2 separate regions of the Homo sapiens genome follow, and region 2 is linked to region 1. The links come from fine-mapping of genetic effects on gene expression. Tissue or cell type: whole blood. Region 1 holds a variant in brackets; the other region holds the start of a gene. All regions are shown on one strand. Distances are from middle to middle.

The links. PIP is the estimated chance that this variant, and not a neighbour inherited with it, causes the effect.
Region 2: PABPC1L starts here. The variant in region 1 is fine-mapped to the expression of PABPC1L in whole blood (TOPMed, PIP above 0.99).

Annotation. Positions count from the first base shown.
Region 1 is chr20:44,943,196-44,947,357 of GRCh38, forward strand. TOMM34 (translocase of outer mitochondrial membrane 34) reads right to left here. Exons shown (of 7, transcript NM_006809.5): 6 at 258-384; 7 at 1-18. Among named protein-coding and RNA genes, the nearest start is that of TOMM34, 15 kb to the right of the region's middle. The variant A/C (reference allele first, on the strand shown) is at 1,717.
Region 2 is chr20:44,907,768-44,911,929 of GRCh38, forward strand. It overlaps PABPC1L (poly(A) binding protein cytoplasmic 1 like), which reads left to right and starts at 2,293. Exons shown (of 15, transcript NM_001372179.1): 1 at 2,293-2,569. The coding sequence starts at 2,377. YWHAB (tyrosine 3-monooxygenase/tryptophan 5-monooxygenase activation protein beta) reads left to right here. Exons shown (of 6, transcript NM_139323.4): 6 at 1-765. RefSeq lists a silencer at 2,147-2,476.

The sequences.
Region 1 (4,162 bases):
AAAGCTGGATTTATAGTCCTAATAGAAGAAAAGACAGGAGTGTGGGGGAAGGTTCCCGGACTGGGGTGGGGATAGCTGCTGAGGCAGCAAAGTGTTTTCAAACCCCAGCCCACAGGCCTGCTCTGAGTTATCCTGGGCCCAGGATGAGAAGGAAAAGCTGCAGATATTGTCTCAGCTTGGCTACACCCTGTAAATGGTGACACTGGCATAAATCTCTGTAGCTATGTTGGGACCTTTTGGCCAGGATTTTTTTTTACCTTGAGTGCTTTGTGGGCTTGAGCCCGTCTGTAGAATGCCTTCACGTTCTTTCCATCCAGCTTGAGGGCTTCTGTGCAGTCCTTCACTGCTTCTGTGTACTGCTTCAGGACCAAATAGCAGAGTGCTCTGAAGGGAAAGACCATTTCAGAGGTTTCAGTCACGTCTTATGGGCCACCCACATGCCACGCAGTAGTTTGAGAAGTGATCTCCAATTTGCTGAACACCTACTCTGTGCTGGTTACTTTATGTCTTCTTAAATCCTCACAACAATCCTAGCCCTTTTCATGGATGAAACATGCTGGCTCAGAAGGGTAAAGGAACTTGGGCCAGGTACCGCCAGTATTAAGGGGCAGACCCAGGATTCAAATAGGCGGGCGTTCGTTCATGGGACTCCAGATCCTGATCTCATCTAGTTCTATCATGCTGTACTGCGCTCTCCTATACTGAGCTCTTTCAAGCAAAGAAAAGGTTTCCTGAAACTTTTCCCTTGACAGATTAAAAAATTATCTACTTTAAGGGGGAAAAAAAAACCCAACAACTACTGAACTCTAATGATATAATGCTGACATGGGGTGAAATGTAAAGACGTTTGCAATTTACTTTTAAGTGCATCAAACACAATAATACAGACCAACAGATGGCTAAATAGTGATAAGGCAATGTAATAATACTAATTGTAGAATTTAGATGGTAGGTCTATGGGTGTTCAATGTACAAATCTTTCAACTTTCCTATATTTTGAACATTTTCATAATAAAATGTTGGAAAAAAGTTATGTGCATCCATACAATATATTCTGCATCTGTGGGTTCAAAAAAGTGCATGTGTGTATATATCTTCCTCATTCAGATCTAGTCCTTCTCTCCAAAGACAGTCACTAAAAACAAAACAGTCAGATGTCTGGGCGCTCATTACATAAGTTCATCTGTTCCACCTCACTGTTTTCAGTGGGTGCAGGGTATTCACTAAGTTGGATGTAGCATAATTTATTTTACCAATTTCCTATCAAGAGGTATTTTTCATTGTTTCCAGTTTGTAAATAAGTGATGCCATGATGAACATCCTTGTGCAAGGGACTGCTGTATCCAAAGATACATGCATTTTAAAACCTGACTGGCCAGGTGCAGTGGCTCATGCTTATAATCCCAGCACTTTGGGAGGCCAAGGTGGGAAGGTCACTTGAGCCCAGGAGTTTGAGACCAGCCTGGGCAACATAGGGAGACCCCATCTCTTAAACAAAACAAAACAAAAAAAGAAATAAAATCTGATTGTTACTGCCAAAATGCTTTCCAAAAAAGCTGAATAGTTATTGACAGAGCCTATTTTCCTACAACTGTACCAACTTTGGGTCTTAAATTTTCATGTATGCCAATATGGAATAAAACACTATCTCACTGCCTTAGCTGCTTAGTTGTGGGTAAAGCTGAACATCTTTAATAAGGGTTTTTAATCTTTTGA[A/C]ATCAAACTTCTCTAACTTTTCCTTTAACGACTTCTGTAACATTTTTTTCCCTTCACATAAGAATACCTTCCCCACTGCAAGATAGTTAATCCATGTGTTCTTCTAGAACTTAATGGTTTCGCTTTTTACATTCCAAACTGTGATCCACTCAGAACTTACTTTAAAATAAGAAGCAAGGTAGGATTCAAGTTTAACTCTAACCTGGCCAACCCAACACCTCTTATTAAATAATCTCTCTTTGCCCCAGACTTTATTATACACCAGATTCTCTCATGTCGTTGTTCTCATTTTTTTCTGACTTATCATGAATTTAAAGAAGAAAATTCTACTAGTCCTTTGTGATTGCATGGAATTCATAAATTAACGGAGAGAAAAATCTTCTTGTAACAACTTAAAAGACAGGCACAAATTCTTTGGCAATCCTCCACTGAGAGGCGGAGGTGTATCTGCTCTCTCTCTTTGAATTCGGGCAGGCTCTGTGACTGCTCTGACCAACAGAGGACAGAGGAAGGGACACGATGTGACTTCCAAGGTTAGGTCATAATAGGCCTTGCAGCTTCCACCTTGGTCTCTGGAAACACTCGCTCTTGGAGCCTTGAACTGACAGGGAAGAAGCCAACTACTCTGAGGCCACCACGCTCTCAGGAAGCTCACAGCAGCACACATGAAAAGGCTGCTAAGAAAGTGGAAAGAGGTGCCAGCTTGCTCTAGCAGTTCCATCACCCAGCCATTTGAGTCAGGCAGCCCAGCTGCCAGACATTCGAGGAAGAAGGCTTTAGAGGATTCCAGCCCCAGCTACCATCTTGCTGACCCTGCATGAGAGACCCCAAATGAGAACTGCCCTTCCCTAATTCCTGACTCCACAAATTACAAGCAAAATAAAATGGTTGTTGTAAATCACCAAGTTTTAGAATAGTAGCCCGTTTTAAACTTTGAACACAGAAGAATTCCTTTTTTTTTTTGGAGACAGGGTCTCACTCTGTCACCCAGGCTGGAGTGCAGTGGCATGATAACAGCTCACTGCAACCTCCGCCTCCTGGGTTCAAGCGATTCTCCTACTTCAGCCTCCCGAGTAGCTGGGATTACAGGTGCATGCCACCATGCCCAGCTAACTTTTGTATTTTTTGGTAGAGATGGGGTTTCACCATGTTGGCCAGCCTGGTCTCAAACTCCTAACCTCAAGCAATCTGCCCACCTCAGCCTCCCAAAGTGCTGGGATTACAGGCATGAGCCACCTCTAAACATAGAGGAATTCTAAGGAAATTAAAGTTTCCTCCCAATGGGCTTGGCAATTTAAAGAAATAGCCAAGTGTCTGGGAAGCAGAGGAACCACCGTGTATCGTGACTTCAGAATAGAAATGTGATTAATAGGGTCATGTGAGACTTCTAAAGACTATATTTAAGATGAACAAAATGCATAACTTCAGGCAATAAAATAAACCCCCTTGACTTTTGGTAAATGAAGTAACTGTATCCAGTCAGAAGGGTTTTAATTACAAAGGGGTTGGGAAATAACACAAGTGAGTGAAAGGGAAATAAGCTTTGGAGTCACAAAGATCTGGCTTAAATCTCAGCCACCATGTACTAGTTGTTTAACTTTGTGGTCACTAATTCATCTTTCTGAGCCTGATTAGGTAACACAGGACAATGATCTAAGCTGAAGAACTGTTGTGAGTACAAGTGAGATTCTTATGACAGCTGTTTCAGGGCTGGCAAGTTGTAGGTGCTATGCACTCAGATGTCACCTGCACAAAGGGAGCCAAAGTAAGCCAAAGCCTGGGCATTGTGTCATTCAGATGGGCGTACATGAGGTGGAGCATTAGACTATGTCCAAGACGTTCCAGGACATGATAAAATGTTAGCCACAATGGCTGAAAGTTGTTTTGTCATTAGTCCTCTAGATTAAATTATAAATCCAATGCAATCACAACCAAAAGCTGTCCAACAAGACATTTTTTGGAATTTGCCAAAATGATCCGAAGCTTTAGCTAGAAGAACAAACATGGGAAAATACTAGGAATGCTCTGATTAAGAAGAATGAAGAAAAGACCAGCCCTATAAGATATTATAAAGCAAAAGCAATTAAAACAGTGTGGCACAGACACCTGCATGAAGAACAGTATCTAAACAAGACAAAACACAGCTCCAAATATGGTAATGATCCAGAAAAATGAGTTAATGGAGGTGTCCAGCAGCATAAGGTAAGCAATGTGAAAGAGGGTCCAGAGATAGAGGAGTTAGAAGATGCCACACAAATATGGAACAAATAGGCTGCAGGCTTCTTTTTCAAATTAGCCTGGCAAATTGTGGCCCCTCTGGTCCAATCAGCAATAAAACCACATAAAACCACAGGTGCAAAATTCCAAAATATAAGCTTTAAAACTACAAGTTCTCTTTCCAACTCATTGGGCAGCAAAACCTGATCTGAACTGACATGAAGCTATT
Region 2 (4,162 bases), 35 kb before region 1:
GAAGAGCTTCTGGCACCAGAACCCTGTCTTCCTCCAGTTCTCAACACGGTGTTGCTCTTCAGTCATACCGGAATCTGAATCAAAAAAGTATTTTTAAATATCCATGATTTCTCCCTGTATTGAGGCTAGCCCTGATCATGCTTTTTGTGCCTGTCACCAGGTCTCCCAAGTGCACTCATCCAGGTCAGTGCTCAGATGTGTTTAAGGAGACCCTATATTCAGGGAAGTTGCGTGAACACTGCAGTGGGGAGAATTGAGAATAGTCAGGCCTATCAGTCTCACAGAATCACCCCTCTACCTTTGATATTCCACTTAGCTGTAGAGTCCATCTGTTTGTCCATCTGCTGAAATGAGAAAAGAAAAATTTATGCACTGATTTAAAACAAACCAAAAAAAAAGAAAAAAACAAAAAAAAAAATCCCTCCTTTCTAGCTGAACAAAAATGTGCAGTTAATACTTGGCGCTTGAAAATGCAGTAGTGAATGTGGAACCAAGCCTGTCTGTATATCTGGTAGCTCTTTTCTTGCTTTGTTTTTTCTTACCAGTATTCTGCCTAACGTTTGCTTCTGTGATGGTTATATTGCCTAGCAAGCACACCCGTGGTTGTGAAAATAGTATAGCAAAAAAGAAAAATCCCCGGTTATTGATGTACTAGATTTGTGTATGTCTTTTAAACAGTTCTAGTTTCACCTTACACAGAATAATCAGGAAAAGTGTAAAAATTCAAAAGTGAAATAAAAATTTTATCAGTTAGTTGCCTGTGAATTGATGTGTCACCACCATCTCTGTTGTTACCAGACCTAGCTAACTATTCTGATCACACTTATTTTTAACTCTGTTTTCTTTAAAAATAGGCAAACAGTTTTATTTCATTATTTAGGACCAGAAGTCAAGGTGTTATCCAGGGGAAGAAATTACCATTAATTAAACAGCCTCTTTACACCCGTTACTTGATACCTCTCTACCTTCCACAACAAACCATGCAGGTATTAGGTCCTCTTTAGTGACTTCTAAGATTTGGTATGGACAGTTATTTTGCATTGTATTCGAGCCCACCATCCCTTCCCCATTTTTTAACTCTGAGATACAACCAAGCCAGTGAAATAGGTAACCTATGGTTGCATAAGTCTTGGTCATCACCAAGCTGGCGTCTCACCTGTCCTCACACTGTATGGTGGCCTGCAGAGCTGGTTCCTCACAGGATTTGCCCCTTCTGAAAACATCCACATTACCACAAGGAGAGAAAAATATCAGGATAGAGGGGTCTTTTTTAGCCCAAGATTAGAATTAGTGCTTCCTTGCTACTCTGAGGCTGGACAGCCAGATGGGCACCTTCTGTCCCTAGTTTAGGAGCTGTTCCACCTGTTGAAGCCACACTCAACCAAAAGTCAGTGGGGGCCTACCTGCTCTGTTGGATCAGTGAGACCAGGAAAGTCCTATCAGAGGAAAAGTGAAGTATTGGTGCTCAGTGGAGTAGTTGTTTTGTTTTTGTGTTGTTTTTAATGTCCCTATACCACAGATTGACGCTGCAAGCTCAGATTCACAGTCTTGCTCTGTTTAGGTCTTGCTCTGCTATTAGTTCCCAATTGTCCGCATTTAGGCTGAGCCACAAGTAACTCAGTGAACCTCCCTGGTGTAATGGATGTGTAATGGCTTAGCAGAGGGACAGGGAATATCCCAGGAAAAGGGGTCTTGGTAATATGAGCCAGTACCAAGAAAGGCCTTAGTGGTCTCCAGTTCTCATGTCTCAAAGCCATTTCCATCCTTGGTGCGAAACGGTGGGACTGGATCAGGCTCTCTGGAGGAAGACATCTTCAATGGAGCAGGGTAAAATTCTCTACACAAGCTTTGAAACAGTGGCCTGTTCGGAATTCCGTTTGTGTGTGAAACGCAAAAAGCGCGGTTTGGGTCTCCTTTCATTCTTGTCAGGAGGGAATCATTCCCATTTTACAGAGAAGGGAAACGGGTTCAGAAAGATGATCATCTGTTCCGGGGTTAGAACTCAGTCCCCTGCGTCCTTTCCGTCCCAGTCCTCGGCTCTTTCAAAAGAGCTGGGGGTTTTGAGAGCTCCACTCAAGTCCCAGCAGCCCTGCTCAAGGCCAGGTTGAAGGCTTTTTCCGCCTCCCAGGGCGGGGTCAGAGGTGTCCCCACCTGTAGCTTTTAGATCCCCAAGTGCTCGCAGGTGGGGGGTGGGCCCAGGAGGGATCCCGGGGGAGGGGCGTCCGAGCGCGCCCACGATTGGTGCGCAGGGACGCGGGGGCGGTAAAGGGAAGGGGCGGGCCCGCGCCCAGGAAGGAGGGCTTCCGCCCGGGTGAGCGCGGGGCTGCTGGGTGACCCGGCTCCTGCTTGCCCCGCAGCCCCGGCCCCCTGCCCACCATGAACGCCAGCGGTTCTGGCTACCCGCTTGCCTCGCTTTACGTGGGCGATCTGCACCCCGACGTGACCGAGGCCATGCTCTATGAGAAGTTCTCTCCCGCCGGCCCCATCCTGTCCATCCGCGTGTGCCGCGATGTAGCCACCCGGCGCTCGCTGGGCTACGCCTACATCAACTTCCAGCAGCCCGCGGACGGTGAGCCCCGGGGATGGGGCGGGAGGGGAAGGACCGACGGACAAGCAGGCGGACAGACAGAAGCCGGAACTGGGCCGCTTGCGCTTTCATCTTACACTTTGCAGCCGGGGAAACTGAGGCTCAAAGATAACAGGGCGTTGGCAGAGGCCTGGCCCCTGAGACGGGAATTGGTAATTAGTGTGGTTTACTGCTATTCCTCTACAGAGGAGAGAGATTAGGGTCGAGTGAAAACAGATACAGGCTTTGTGGGGGTGGGGGTGGGGGTCAGGCGGACCAGGGATAGAAGCCCAGCAGCCGTGTGACTCTGGGCAAGTTACTCGACCATTCTGAGCTTCAGATGCGTGTCTGGAAAATGGGGGTCCTAGCTGCCTTATAGAGTGCTTGTGAGGATGAGAGATTCAAAGCACCTGGTGAGGAAGATGCCCAAGGCAACACAGCTGGTGAGCAGGGGAGGCAGGAGAACCCAGCCTTGGGCTCAGGCCTTTCCCAGCGCGACGTGAGATCCACACTGGGCGCCTCTACCTGCACGGGCTCTGAAAAACCGCTGCCTCCAGGCCGCAAGGCCGCTTTCTCAGAGCTGATAGCATTGATTAGAGCTTGTCCGATGAGTTTGCCTGCACTTCTGTTGAGAGTGGAGAGGATGAGTGAGCTTGGGCAAGCCTTCACGCTCTGCACCTTTTCATCTGCAAAATGGGGCTAAGGCGTATTCTCCAATAACATAAAGAATGGAGAACTGCTGTCTATGCATAAAGAATGGTAACTGCTTGTTACCTCGTAAACGCTCTTAAGTGGTAACCTAAAATAAATAAATAAATAAATAAATAAATAAATAAATAAATAAATAAGGCCAGGCGCAGTGGCTCACGCCTGTAATCCCAGCATCTTAGGAGGCCGAGGTGGGCAGATCACTTGAGGTCAGGAGTTCGAGACCAGCCTGGCCAACATAGCGAAACCCTTTCTCTACTAAAAATACAAAAAATAGCTGGGCATGATGGCGGACGCCTGTAATCCCAACTGCTGGGGAGGCTGAGGCACGAGAATCGCTTGAATCCGGGAGGCAGAGGTTGCAGTGAGCCGAGACTGCGCCATTGCACTCCAGCCCGGGCAACAGAGCGAGACTCCATCTCAACACAAAACAAAACAACAAACAAAAAAGAAACAACAACGAAAATAGTGGCTTTAACATTCTGATGTAAGACTCCAGAAACTCACCCAAAAAATGGCCGGCGTCCACTAGAGGGATCCCTTGCGCCAGGTCGCCTGGGTGAACCTGGTGGTTGCCTGAGTGGGTGGTTTGCTAGGGAAGGGGTTGTTCCGCCGGGCCTGTTCCCCGCCCCTTACTGGGCTGGATTCCTGGGCACTTTTCTGTTTGTTCTGCTTTGCTCCACCTCCTGCCTCTTCCCATCTTCCTCCAAGCCCTGTGAATGAAGTGGGACTCGGCCTGGAAACCGTGCTGCAGAGAGAAGGGTTTTGCCCCAGGTATTTATGATAAGACTAGGTGGAGAATCCGGGCTTCCTGAAACTTGCTCCACTGTGTTCCCCACAGCCCCCTTCCATGTCTCTGCACTAGCAGACTCCCTGAAACAGGTCACG